2 linked regions of the Homo sapiens genome follow. The protein of the gene in region 2 purifies or fractionates together with the protein of the main gene of each other region. This does not show direct contact. Each region holds a gene or a part of one and is shown on either strand. Other genes may lie near its edges.

What was found. Proteins that work in one complex are often made in the same cells at the same time.
Region 1: the proteins of SLC45A2 (region 2) and MID1IP1 purify together in Homo sapiens (affinity purification with mass spectrometry; 2 studies listed by BioGRID and IntAct, with this or other methods). This does not show direct contact.

The regions. Positions count from the first base shown.
Region 1 is NC_000023.11:38,797,024-38,804,479, forward strand, and holds the start of MID1IP1 (mid1-interacting protein 1), read left to right. Parts: upstream 1-4,435; 5' UTR 4,436-4,464; exon of another isoform or gene 4,465-4,769; intron 4,770-5,511; 5' UTR 5,512-7,390; intron 7,391-7,456. UniProt on the Homo sapiens protein: Plays a role in the regulation of lipogenesis in liver. Up-regulates ACACA enzyme activity. Required for efficient lipid biosynthesis, including triacylglycerol, diacylglycerol and phospholipid. Involved in stabilization of microtubules.
Region 2 is NC_000005.10:33,946,694-33,953,716, forward strand, and holds part of SLC45A2 (membrane-associated transporter protein), read right to left. Parts: intron 4,985-7,023; coding exon 4,861-4,984; exon of another isoform or gene 4,679-4,860; intron 682-4,678; coding exon 470-681; coding exon of another isoform or gene 455-469; exon of another isoform or gene 1-454. UniProt on the Homo sapiens protein: Proton-associated glucose and sucrose transporter. May be able to transport also fructose. Expressed at a late melanosome maturation stage where functions as proton/glucose exporter which increase lumenal pH by decreasing glycolysis.

The sequences.
Region 1 (7,456 bases), on a different chromosome or scaffold from region 2:
TTTAAATTAATTTTTTTTGTTGTTGGCAGGCTTCTACCAGTAAGTTTCTCAAGAAAAATCCTGAGTTCATGTTTGAGAATGTCTGCTTATTGTTTTTTGCTTGAGTAATATAATACTTTTGAATCATACATTCTTTCTTCCAGCTCCACTGTCTCCTGTAGTGGAATGTTTTTGTAAAGCTGGTTGGATTCTCTCCTCCCCTGAGACCACCATCTTTTTGGTGACTTCTTTTCCTGCTTGGACACTTGAAGGCTTTTTTTCTTCTTCTTTGAAGTTGAAAAATACAACTAGCTTGTTTTTCAACTGTTCTGCATAATTTTATCTGGTATATAGTATGCTTATTAAATCTGCAGATGAATGCATCTTGTCAAGGAAAATTTTCTATGTTACAACTGAATTTCTTCTATTTCACATGTTGAGGTCTCTTTGGAAACATCAGTTAAGCTTATATTGTGTGTGTGTGTGTGTGTGTGTGTGTGTGTGTGTGTGTGTGTATGTGTGTGTGTGTTTTGAGACGGGGTCTCACTCTGTTGCCCAGGCTGGAGTGCAGTGGCATGATCTCGGCTCACTGCAACTTCCGCCCCCTGGGTTCAAGTGATTCTCCTGCCTCAGCCTCCCAAGTAGCTGGGATTACAGGCATGCACAACCATGCCCAGCTAAATTTTTTTGTATTTTTAGTAGAGATGGGGTTTCACTATGTTGGCCAGGCTGGTCTCAAACTCCTGACCTCAAGTGATCTACCCACCTCAGCCTCCCAAAGTGCTGGGATTACAGGTGTGAGCCACTGCGCCTGGCCTATATTATGTTGTCTTTGTCTTCTCTATCCAACATTTCCTCTCCATTTTCTTTCACTCTTTTGTGTCTTTTCATTGGGATTACCTGAACCTTTTGCCCTATGCCAGTAACTGAATTTTCTGGCATGCCTGTTTTGTTCCTTGTTTGGAATTACATTTATTGACTCTCTAGTGATGTGTTTGGTTCAAATTTTGTTTCTTTTGCTCTGCAATATCCTTTTTCAAATCTTCCTAATTGTTTATTATTTTTCTATTCTTATCAAGGTCTTCTATAGCTGGAAGGACTTGTAGGTTGTATTTGCTTCTAGATTTACATCTTTTGTGTACTAACTCTGTCCAGACTGTCTAATATGATGTAGGTGAATTCGCCTTGACTTCATTGTACCTTGTCTAGGTCTAGTTTTTTTATTATTAAGGTTGGAAGAGTAAATTATGGAAGACTTGGGCGTGTAACTGTTGAACCCGTCCATTGGATAATGTATTTATGACACTGTAGCTTCAACAAAATGAAGCTACAACCCATATGTATATGTATATATGTGGATTTGTAATTAGGACTTGAACATATGAAATATTGATAATTATGTGTTTTCTCCCTAATTTGGTGTTATAATTTGTAAACTTTGAATCTAATTTCAGAATTTAAACTAACCAAGCTGACACATTTTAACAGGATAGAGTGAAGAAAGAACATTCTCATTCTTCCTTCTATGCTGATGGTACAAGAAAGTCCTGGAATCCTAAGGATCTAGGAAAAATCAACTTGAGAAGTTTCTATGTGGTAAGAAAAGCTATGATGTGTCTTGCCCTTTTCTCATCTACCATATTGAAATTGAATGTACAGTTCTGTATACGGTTCAGAGTTCTTAAAGATGTAGAAATGATGAGAACATAACAAAAGGTATTCTTTAGTATTCTCAACTTTCCCTGTGCTCTACTTCTTCCAAACGCAAGGCTAAAGACGCTTTAAAAAATGAGATTGTGACAAAATGCTAACTACGACATATTCAGACATTCCAAAACCTGAAAGTGGATCTGAAGCCAGCAGATTCACTACTCACTGTTCTTAGGTTTTGGCATTTTTCTGTCTACCTTCTCTCAACTAAACCTTCATGACGGTTTTTCCTGTAAGGACAATTACAATAAGATACACTCCCTTCCCCATCTTAACTCAGATTATTATGATGCTATTTCTGCATTTTTGTATCATGTGATGGTGGTTTCTTTGTGGTATATGACAAAAATGCCCTTCTTCTTGACTCCACAGGAAGAAAACTGGCTATTAGCTTGGGACTTCAGCAAGGCACTTAGCAAGGTCTCTCATAATATCCTGTGGTCAAGAAGAAAAATATAGGCTGGATGACTGTACAATTAACATGATTCATAGCTGGCTGGAACAACTTATGCCAAAAAGTGCCAATTAATGGACGGATATCAAACTGAAGGAGCTCTCCAGATGTTCTACAGCAATTTGCCTCTTGCCCAGTGGTGCCTGGTACCTATTATCAATAACTTGGATAAATATATAGAATAGTTATCAAATATATGGGTAAGATCCAAGTGCATTACAGCACAGAATCAGGACCCAAAATAATAAAACAGGCTGAACTAATGGGCCAAATCCAATGAGATAAAGTTTAAGTAGGATAATATAAAGTTCTGTACTTTGGTCCAAAAAATCCCCACTACTCAAGTATAGGGTACACAAAATTTTGTTATATAGATGGCAGCATATAGATGTAGCTGTTAAAATAAGTCCATTAAATGTTAGGCAGCATTATAAGCAGTAGCTATCTATTGAGTAGTAGAAAGAACATTGGATTTGGCATTAGAAAACTGGGTCAAATCCCAGTTCTGACAGTTTGGCCCTTAAACTCTTTGATCCTTGCTTTCTTCTCAGGGTGGTTGTGAAGTTAAAATGAGTTAACATGTCTTTTGAGTTAACAAGTCTAATTTCCAAGCACTTGTGCTCAATAAATATGACCTAGAAAAATTACCATTCACAATAATATAAGTGGCTGTGCCACTCCATTTTGTCCTAGAAAAGATGGTACTTGGAATGAGAGGGGCCACACTCAAAAGCAAACCAGAGCTACTTCTAAAGTTAGTGACTAGGATGGATGAGCGACTCAAAAGAGAACATGAAGAATGGCTACAGGAACTGGGGATAACTGACTTGAAGAACAGTAGACTTAAGGAGACCATATCTACCTTCAAACATCTGATGGTGTGCTTCATGGCCTTCTGTAGAGCTCCAAAAGATAGAAGAACACTGGAGAACGGAAAATAGAAGAATGTAGGCAAGGGCGACCACTTGGTGGGGATGTTGTGAGCGATTTCAGCACAAGTGGATGGTTGGACTACATGGCCTTTAACACGAGAGTCTGACTGTCATATTTCTAGGACATTTTTCATGAAATGGATCCTTCTAAGTCTGTCTCAAAATAATCCAGGATCTCTGCTATCTTGGGTTGGGCTGGCTTCTTGCCTTAAAATATCATCTTTCTTCCAGTTCTAGGCCAGATCTCTTCTTTATCCAGTCTGACTTTCTTGCACCAGTTTACTCTTGCTGACTACTTTGTTCAGGAATTTCTGGTCACTTTTAAAATGTCATTCCCCCCCCCCAAAAAAAAACTATCCAAGGGACACAGTACAAGGATAATTTGTGGACATTTTTGGGGAGATGAGCCAGCAAAGCATGCTTTCCAGGTTGCTTAATTAAAAGAGTGGGAATTAAGAACCAGAATTTAAGAGTTCCGGCAGGGCGCTGGTGGCTTACGCCTGTAATCCCAGCACTTTGGGAGGCCGAGGCGGGCGGATCAAGAGGTCAAGAGATCGAGACCATCCTGGCCAACATGGTGAAACCCCGTCTCTACTAAAAATATAAAAATTAGCTGGGCGTGGTGGTGCGCGCCTGTAGTCCAAGCTACTGGAGAGGCTGAGGCAGGAGAATCACTTGAACCCGGGAGGCAGAGGTTGAAGTGAGCCGAGATTGCTCCACTGCACTCCAGCCTGGCGACAGTGCGAGACTCCGTCTCAAAAAAAAACAAAACAAAAAAAAAGAGATCCAGAATTCCAGAATTGCAACTGTGAACCAAGAAGTGGGGATGGGTACCTCAGACAAGGCTTTTACCGGAAATTTAGCATATAGGATAGAAAGCAGAGACCAAAGACCTCTTGCTTTGAGGCTGTTGGCGTGCTACAAGGACTCGAAAGTTATTTGTTCAACGGATGACTTCTGTTTTCTGGAGGCAAACTGAATTCCGGGCAGGTGGCTCAGCACCTCCAGCCTGTTCCAGATCGGGACAGGGAAGGTGCCTGGGGCAATCAGTGAGGTTTCCAACCTTCCTTAGGCCTGGGCCAGCCCGCTCCCCTCCCATGTGACCCCAGGCAACCATTTTAATTTTTTTACAGCCAAGCGTAGTGGAGAACTGGCTGCGCGCCGGTTGCCAGGGACGCGGCAGCCAGCTTGGCGGGGCTGGGGTGAAAGAGGACGCTGCGTGGGGGAGGGCTCCGCGGCTTCTGACTGGCTGGAGCATCAGGATTCATTTGCATAATATTTTCTGACGGCTTCTGATTGGCTGAAGCCAGAGGGGCGGTGGTGGGGTGATTCCAAGGGCCCAGAGCTCTGGCCGGCGGACCTTTTCCTTCTGGAGTTTCCCCGGCGGGTGTGAGTTGTTGCGGGGTCTGGGGGAGCTGGGAGGCCCGGTTTGGGAAGTTTTGCAGGCAGGTGCATGAGCCATCTTTCTCTGAAAGTGTTTAAGAAATGTTCAAGAACAGCGGCCAGAGTCAAGAAACTGGGGGATGAAGGGTTATCTCGAGACTAGACGGAAGGAAACGTATCAGGGGAGGGGTGGAGGCCAGAAGGAAGGAGTTAGGTAGGGGCCCTCTCCCAAGCTGGCGTTTTTGCTGGGTGGAATCCTTTTGCTAGATCCCTTGGATTTCCGTTTTCCGTGTGTTATCACACTGTTGGAACTGGGAAGAAGAGAAAAAGAGGCAAGATTTTGGCATTTAGTAAGTTAAGTCTGAATACCGAGTTTTCATCCGGGTGCATACGTACTTAAAATACCAAATGGGTCCAGGAAGGGGGACAAAGTACGCTTTAATTTATGAGAAGATCAGCTACTAGAAACTGTATATCTGTTTTTCTCGAGTTTTCTTCTTGCAGTGCTCTTTCAATCTCATTGGACATATTTTATATTATTTTCCTGCTTAAGCACTGGGGGTTGGGTGGAAGGATCTGTGGCTCATCATAGGCAATTTCCACACTTTTAAGGTTTCTGACTCTTCACATAAACACCTCTCACTATGATGAGGTCCTGTATCAAGTACAATTAATCTTTGTACTTTACAATTTACATAGTGATTTTTATTTACATTATCATATTTAAACTTAATCAAAGTCCTTGGCACGGCCCATGGAACAAGCTCCATTTTTTTGATAAAGAAACTGAGGCTAGAAAAGTTTCTATGTGTGCAGAGAAGGAAGGTGAAATTATTTTAATGCTTCAAAGTTATATAATGCTTCCTGCCTCCCTGTATTTTTCTTTCCATTGATCTTCCTTCAAAACCCTGATAGGTCTATCCCAGTTTTGCAAGTAAGAAAACATGGGCTGTGATGTAGAGCTAATACGTTTTGGGGTAGTGGGTCCTCAGACTTAGGTCTGTCTCCAAGGGTCACTGACTTTGTTTTGTTTTGTTTGTTTTTTGTCAACAGATTAGTCCTTGTGGCACCAAGTCAGAATTTCATTCAAAAGACAATTAGGAAGATGGTTTTCTATGGAAAATATTTAAGTGTAGGTCTTAATGTGAAAGAAAGAGGGAGAGAAAGAAACCCCTTTATTATGTTCTCCCTTCCTTAGGCATTTTTTGTCCCGTGGGAAAAAACTGTACTAGGGACAGAGACCTCTGTTAAGTTTTAGAGAAAAGGGATCTTTTTTTTTTTTATTTGAGACAGAGTCTTGCTCTGTCGCCCAGGCTGGAGTGCAGTGGCACGATCTCGGCTCACTGCAACTCCGCCTCCTGGGTTCAAGCAATTCTCCTGCTTCATCCTCCCGAGTAGCTGGGATTACAGGCGCTGGCCACCACGCCCGGCTAATTTTTGTATTTTTAGTAGAGACCGGGTTTCACCATGTTGGCCAGGCTAGTCTGGAACCCCTGACTTTGTGATCCGCCCGCCTCGGCCTCCCAAAGTGCTGGGATTACAGGCGTGAGCCACCGTTTCAGGCCGAGAAAAGGGATTTAAAATGAGAAGCTTGAATCTTATTGAACATAATTGTAGGACTGCCAGAGAGGACTGGTGGATGAGGAATATGGCAAGGGACATGAGATGGGAAAAATTAAATAGGCTGTGGTTTGGAAGTCTCAAAGTGAAATTCAAGGTGCAAGGCTCTTAAAAGTTAAATCCAGCGATTCGGTACATAGCTTAGGCCCTATTAAATGACCCAGTGCTTTAAGAACTATCTTTTGAAAGGAACACTTCACACAAGCACCCTCAAAAATAATTAGACACCTCCCCATTTCTCTGTTAAATGGTGAAAGACACCCAAGACTAGACCTAACTACTGTCACCCTCTCCTGGCCTCTTGGCAGCCAAAAGGCCACATGGCCCAGGCTCTCCAGCATCACTGTGTAGCCGACTTGGACAAAAATGGACTTCTCCCCATTGCCACTTGCAGATCTCTTCAAAGAATCAGCAGATCTGATAGTGTGCCCCTCTTCATCCCCGGCAACCACTGTTAAAGGAAAGATTGGGAAAGATCCCACCCCGCCAGGAGGGAGGCAAAAGCCTCTGACGCTCCCCTCCCCCCATAGCTGACCAAGGCCAGGGCCACTGCGGGAGCACCGCGCGTCCACGTGCACCCAGCATGCCCGGTCACCCTTTATTACGTAAGAGTCCCAGGATGGAGTTGTACCTGCTGCCGGCCCCTCTTCCCCGACGGCTAATAATAAACCCGGGTTCCTGTTTCCCGGCCGCGGCCACTCCAGATTCGGGGCTGAGGGGCTCACTCTGCAACCAAGGCACGTGCATTCTGGTCATCCCACGCGGGGAGCGCGCGCAAGGCCCGCCCAGCCCCCACATGCCAGCCCCACCCTCCAGTCGGTCCGGACGCCGACGCCTTTTTGACCCTCGCTGTGCCCGGCCCTCCTCATCTGGCCTGCCCAGGGCTTGGTGCTGGCGGGGTCCAGCTGCTCCAATCCCTCCTCCTCTGCTCTGCCCTGCCCTGCCCTGGCCTGCCCCGGCGCCCTCCCTCAGCCCGGGTATCAGGCGAGAGGCGGAGCTGGCCCGGCGCGCCCCGCCCCCGCTGTAGAAAGGGCCGGGCGAGTGTTACTCGCGGTCATCCCGGCCTGGGCCTTTTATCTCGGTGCTGCCGGGGGAGGCGGGAGGAGGAGACACCAGGGGTGGCCCTGAGCGCCGGCGACACCTTTCCTGGACTATAAATTGAGCACCTGGGATGGGTAGGGGGCCAACGCAGTCACCGCCGTCCGCAGTCACAGTCCAGCCACTGACCGCAGCAGCGCCCTTGCGTAGCAGCCGCTTGCAGCGAGAACACTGAATTGCCAACGAGCAGGAGAGTCTCAAGGCGCAAGAGGAGGTGGGTGCCCACGCCCCATCGCTGCCCCGGCCAGCTTGGTTGCTTGAGCTCAGGCTTTTCGGAGGG
Region 2 (7,023 bases):
TTCCTACCCTCAGCAAATAATGCCAAGAAATTCCACTATGTACCTCTGAAAGTTGGGGATAGGGAGACCCTTATTGTCGGTATCTAGAAATGCTGCAGGTGGCACCAGGGAGACCTATGAGGTGGTTACAGAAGACCTGGGTCCCCCTTTTTTTGTCTTTGTGTAATTGTGGGCTGGTTTCTCAGCCTCACCAAGCCTTTTTCTAATTAGAAAAATGGGAGTAACACTTCTTGCCCTACAGCTCCCTAAGTGAGCAGGAGTTGAGAATAAGGAGGACAGGACAGCTGGGCTGGGCTGGGCTGGTGAGCATGCCTGTACCAGATCATGGTTGCAGTTGGTTGGGCATTTGACTGTTGCTGTTTCAAGAACCCTTATTTTCCAGCTCTGCTCTACACATTGCTACCAAATCCTCCCCAGCCTTCAGATGAGTCTGGATGTTACCCAAGGCAGAGGTTCAATGACAGCACACCTCCTTTTCTTCCTCGCGGTGGTACTCAGTAATGAGGTTAAAGGGCACAGTGTACAGGGTGCTGGACATTACACCAAACAGGCTGCACAGGACCAGGGTGGAGTAGACATTCGGGAAGAGCCCAATAAATCCCGTCCCCAGGCCAAACAGCAAATATCCCGTGAAGTAAAGACCCTTTAATCCAATGTAGGATACCAAAACTTTCTGAAAGTCTGTGGGAAGAAGAGAGGGAGAAATTACAGCTGGCAGTGCCTCATAACATTTAATAATTTCAGACAATCCTTTCTTCTGAAGATTCACCTTTTTAGACATCCTTTGATACTGAGCCAGGAACAAAAGAATCCCCTTATCTGTGGGTTGAAAACAGCTGGCTTTTGGAACCATTTTAAAGACCTTTCCATAAAGGACAGCTTGAAATTGCCTTGGTAGGCTGATTTTTTTTCTACAAAGAAGAATCTGGCACTGTTTAGCAGACAGCTGGATAGCAAAAAGAAGCGAGAAAGGTGGTGGAAAATCTGACCTAACTATGGGAACCTGGGGCTTCAAGAAAAGTGTGGGTTATTCTAAATCAGATGGGCTGTGGCCCCATAGGACGAAAATAATAACACAGGCCTATCTTGGCCCTACAACCCAAAGTCAGGTTGGGGAAAATTGAAACAACCAAAATTTACAGAATGATCTAAGTCATTCATGATTTCTTAGCCCCCATCTGAATGGAGTCTGCACACCTGAGAAGGAGGTAAAAGATGTACAATTATCTGAAGACACCTTCCCTGACTTGCCAATCCTTCCCAGACTGGTAAGGGGCTCCCACAGCACCCAGCATCTCCTCATCGCTGGCTCCCTAACTCTTGGTAAACAAGTTCCTTGACTTCTCAAAACCCCAGCTTCCTCATCTGAAAACTGGGAATAATAAAACCATCTTTTGGAGTTGTTGCCAGGATCAAGTGAGATGAAGTGTCTATGAAATCACCCAGCTTAATGCCTAGCATGTAGAAAACATCCAATTAAGCAACAAGACAGGCTGAGCTGGAGACAGTTGACTTTTAACTGGGTTCCTCTTCTAGCAGGTCAACTTGGCTTGCTTATATCAGTATAGTGGCAGAACTAATTTTTAAAAATGAAAAATTCTGCTTTAAAACATTTTACAAGGTTTTCTACAATGGCAAGGAAAATCTCTAAATTGTTTTTATCTTCTTCCCTCAGTCGTTTTTAATCCACACATTCCTCATCTCTTCCCTGCCCCATTCTCCTGGAACACAAGAATCAGAGGATAAATAACAGATACTTGAAACGTGACTATTAAGAATGACATTTTCCATATCTATTCATATAATTATTGGACTTACACCTTGTAGACAAGCAACCTTATTTGCAGTACATTTGAATCAATTATGAAACTAAACACTCTCACACTGATGGAAGACAAAGATCTGGAAATGACAAGTAGGCAACATTGCTTCCTCTATTAAACTTATACCATGACTGGAGGACTGTTGTTAAGGTTGAGAATACAAAAATGAGAATAAAGCTAGAACAGTTTCTGCTTGCTTAATAATTATATTTATACAGAAAATGTAATCTAAGGTGTCTCAATACCTAAAAGATACCATCAATACCCATTAGGGAAATGCTCTTATCCAAGTGTGTATGCCAGCAGAGGAGAAGGCAAAGTAGGGCAAAGAGGTATTTGGAAACATAAGTAACTTCAGTACAGAGACTGAAAGTCTGGCAAAGAATACTTTATTCACAAAGATAATTCAGTGAACTTCAGGGCCAAGCTTGAATTGCCCTCTGATGGGTCTGATACCCAGTGGTAGTCATATCCTCACACAATGCCTCTCTTCAGGACTGAGGGGAAATTATAGATTTAAGCACCAGTTATGACTAGTAGTGTATGATATTATGGTATGAACAATAGGCCATATCTTAGTACTCAGTGTTGTTGTTCTAATTGGTATACCTGTACCTGCTGTATACAAAAGGAGCTTAGAAACAAGTCCCTATCAGCACTCTCCACCTCAGCAGCCAGATTGTCCTGCCAACCTCCATGTGGATAGAAACTCTGAATCTGCTCCTGATGTTATGTGATGAATCCAAAATAGAGGGTAATATAGTGAGCTCTGGAAGGAAAGGAAAGGATTGATTCTGCCCAGAGTGGGTTGAGGTGCAGGGGGAAGAAAACTTGAATGATTTCACTGAGGAAGTAATATTTAAGCTGGGTCTAAAAATATTATTAGAAGTTGTCCAGTTGGGGAAGTAGAAAGAGCAGTTCAGGCAGAAGAAACTAAAAGCAGTGGCAAATACCCAGAAATGAGAAAGTCTGCATAGTGGGTCATTGAGGGTGGTTAATTGATATGGGAGTGAAAAAGGGCAAAGTATGAACTAGGCCAAACTGTGAAAAGCTCAGGAATTTGACTTTATCCTATGGGCATGGGGAATCCCTAAAATCCTTGAGCAGAGCTGGCTGGTATTTTATAAATAAAATGTTGATTTGAATTAACAATGGTAGGGATCCCATAGATTTATACATTAATAAAACTTTGGAAAACTATTCAACTAATAATTTCTTTTGTAACTAGAAACGCTTTTAACTAGAAGGGACCTAAAAATAATATGCTTTAAAGTTTCAAATGCCATAAAATTTATGCGGACAAGACTAATGGAATGTTATCTAGTAGGAGTTCCCTGAGGAAAAATAAGTTTAGATTGACACTTTTCTTTCTGACAAAGATGAAGGTAGGGCTGGATGTAGTGCCTCATGCCTGTAATCCCAGCACTGTGGGAGGCTGAGACAGGAGGATCACTTGAGCCCAGGAGATCGAGACCAGCCTGGGCAATGTAGGGAGACCCCATCTCTAAAAAAAAAATTTTTTTTAAATTAATAAGCCAGGCACAGTGGCATGTGCTTGTGGTCCCGGGTACTCAGAGGGCTGGGACTTGCTTGAGCCCAGAAGGTTGAGGCTGCAGTGAGCCATGATCATGCCACTGCACTCCAGCTCAGGTGGCAGAGTGAGACTTTGTCTTAAAAAAAGAAGAAAAACAAAAAAAAGCATGAGGGTAGTGGTAAATAGTCCCCTCAGCCCTTGAAATCATGAAGGACTTAAGCTGGATAATTTACTAGACCCTTTTAGTCTAACATTCTTTTATTCTATTTTAAGTGCTTGAAATCTTCCTCCTGGATTTTTTCTTAGTTTGCACACTCGAAGAGGAAGAAAAGAGTTTGCTAAATAAATGTGATCTTTAAGCACTACTCTTTGAGTATCATAAATTTTAAAATAATGAATGTTGTTGTTACGTGATTATTGGGCTCATCAACTTGCATGTTTATATGAGGTCCCATTTTCCCAATTGGGCTAAATTTTTAAGAGGTCTTGAGGCAGGTTTCCTGCTGTGCTATGGCTAGGTAAAGGGAAGGGGAAGGGGCCCTCACATACATCCACACTTTCCCTTCACAAGAAGCAGGCTGACAGTGACAGAGTGAGTCCTCCTGAGAATGGTAACAGGGATTCTCCCCATCTCTTCCCACTTCCTTCACCTGGGCCATATCCCTGCTGTCCCCTGGACCTGTCCAAAGCCCAGAGCCCTGAATTGGGGGTCAGTTATTCTTACAATCTTGCAGAAGAAGAGCTCTTTATAGGAGCTCTTTATAATTAGGAGAACTGCATACATTTTTCAGGCCAGACGTTTCACTTAACTCAATGTATACAGAGCTTGGAGATATCCATACACAGTCGCAAGTACAATGCAGCCTGTGCAATGCCCTGGAGTTATAGCACAGCCACCTGGACTTACATAAAGACAATAGCAGAAATCCCTTTGTTCAGTGTCTTCACAGCTGCAACTTAGGTAAGTGGAGGTTAAGAGGCTCAGAAAAGCTGGCACCTGGGAAGGAAAGCCAGCTGTCCCCAATCCTGGTGTGGTGCTCCTATAACCCACCCAGTTACACATCTGAGCTAAGGTCATTTTGCATGCTGACTTTGTCACCTGTCATATTAATATTGCTTCTCTTCTGTATCATCTACAAATCTGATAAGCCTATCTATGAAATGCTACCAATGATCTTGCTCCAGTAGAACACGAACCTGCTGGGACTCATCCATCCAACACTTCATCTTGTAAAGATTCCCTTTCATTTTCCAGAGAAACTTGATCAGGAACCCACTGATTCCAAGAGCAAAGTAATCAGTGAGGAAATGACACCTAGAATTCATGATGAAAAAAGGATGCTTTATATGGTCCTTTTTAAGGTGATAGTTTTTCCTGACGTCCATAGATTTATTAAGAATCTGGTATTTTAAACAGTAGGAAATACACATAGAAATATCAAATCCAAGTTGTGCTAGACCAGAAACTTTTAGAAGACATCCTTAGGAGAGAGAAAGACTTACAAGAATAAAGTGAGGAAAACACGGAGTTGATGCACAAGCCCCAACATCCAACCTCGACTCCTCTTTCGTAGATGAGAAACTCTGTGGAGTTGTGTGCACTATAGGGATCCCCGCGGTACACAATCTGAAAGAGAGATTGGAGGCTGTTGAGGTACAAATGCAATGTAGTAAGAACCCTTCTCATGCACTCTGCTTCTCCACCTCTGGGGAGCAAATGTCCCTGCCTGAGGGACCCTTTCTAGAGTACAGAGCTGATGCTGTCATGACCAAGTCGCATCCTATCACATCTTCATTCAAGGACCTATCAGAAATCTAATGCTTGCTGCATCAGATCTCAACAACACTCTCTTGGATCCTTAACATTCCTCCTTCCATCTCACAGCTGGCCCCACCTGACTTAGGAAATCCCACCACTCATCTTCTGCTACAGCCAATCGGCTTCTGACTCATCTCCACATGGGCCATTCCTGTTCCTGCTTGGAATGTTTTCTCCCTCTCTAATATTCCTCTAACTCCTACTCACCCTTCAAGGCCCAGACCATACTGCACCTCCTTTTTTATGTGTATTTATTATCATATTTTATTTTTTAAGAGACAGGGTCTTGGTCTGTCACTCAGAATGGAGTACAGCGGCACAGTCATAGGTCACCGCATCCTTGAACCCCTGGCCTCAAATGATTGCTCCACCTTGGCCTCGAAAGCACTGAGATTACAGGCATGATCCACCATGCCCGGCCTGAACCCCACCCCTCCTTTTTGAAGCCTGCCATGATTGCTACAGCTCACATCAATTGGCCCTATTTGTTGTATTTTTTTTTTTTGTAGTTTCAGCATTTTATTTCTTATTTTGATTCAAGATGTGAGAGGTATTACAAACACTCAATTATGAGTGATGCATTTACGTGTCCTATTCTTCCATCTGTAGATAAGTGAAAAGTCATTTAAGAAATTAGAGGTCTCTGTAGTAAATCCAAGTCACAGTAAAGCAAACAAAAATGCATATGTGTGTGATATAATGTGGAACTTTACCCCCTTGGAAGACTTTGCAGGCTGTAAGAATTTCATTTTTAATGTATTTCATACAGGCCGGAGCTAACAAGTTAATTTCTATTGAGCAAAAGTTTTTTTTTTTTTTTTAATTTTTTTTTTTTTATTATACTCTAAGTTTTAGGGTACATGTGCACATTGTGCAGGTTAGTTACATATGTATACATGTGCCATGCTGGTGCGCTGCACCCACTAACATGTCATCTAGCATTAGGTATATCTCCCAATGCTATCCCTCCCCCCTCCCCCGACCCCACCACAGTCCCCAGAGTGTGATATTCCCCTTCCTGTGTCCATGTGATCTCATTGTTCAATTCCCACCTATGAGTGAGAATATGCGGTGTTTGGTTTTTTGTTCTTGCGATAGTTTACTGAGAATGATGGTTTCCAATTTCATCCATGTCCCTACAAAGGACATGAACTCATCATTTTTTATGGCTGCATAGTATTCCATGGTGTATATGTGCCACATTTTCTTAATCCAGTCTATCATTGTTGGACATTTGGGTTGGTTCCAAGTCTTTGCTATTGTGAATAGTGCCGCAGTAAACATACGTGTGCATGTGTCTTTATAGACAGCATGATTTATAGTCATTTGGGTATATACCCAGTAATGGGATGGCTGGGTCAAATGGTATTTCTAGTTCTAGATCCCTGAGGAATCACCACACTGACTTCCACAATGGTTGAACTAGTTTACAGTCCCACCAACAGTGTAAAAGTGTTCCTATTTCTCCACATCCTCTCCAGCACCTGTTGTTTCCTGACTTTTTAATGATTGCCATTCTAACTGGTGTGAGATGATATCTCATAGTGGTTTTGATTTGCATTTCTCTGATGGCCAGTGATGATGAGCATTTCTTCATGTGTTTTTTGGCTGCATAAATGTCTTCTTTTGAGAAGTGTCTGTTCAGATTTTGTCACCACCAGGCCTGCCCTAAAAGAGCTCCTGAAGGAAGCGCTAAACATGGAAAGGAACAACCGGTACCAGCCGCTGCAAAATCATGCCAAAATGTAAAGACCATCGAGACTAGGAAGAAACTGCATCAACTAATGAGCAAAATCACCAGCTAACATCATAATGACAGGATCAAATTCACACATAACAATATTAAC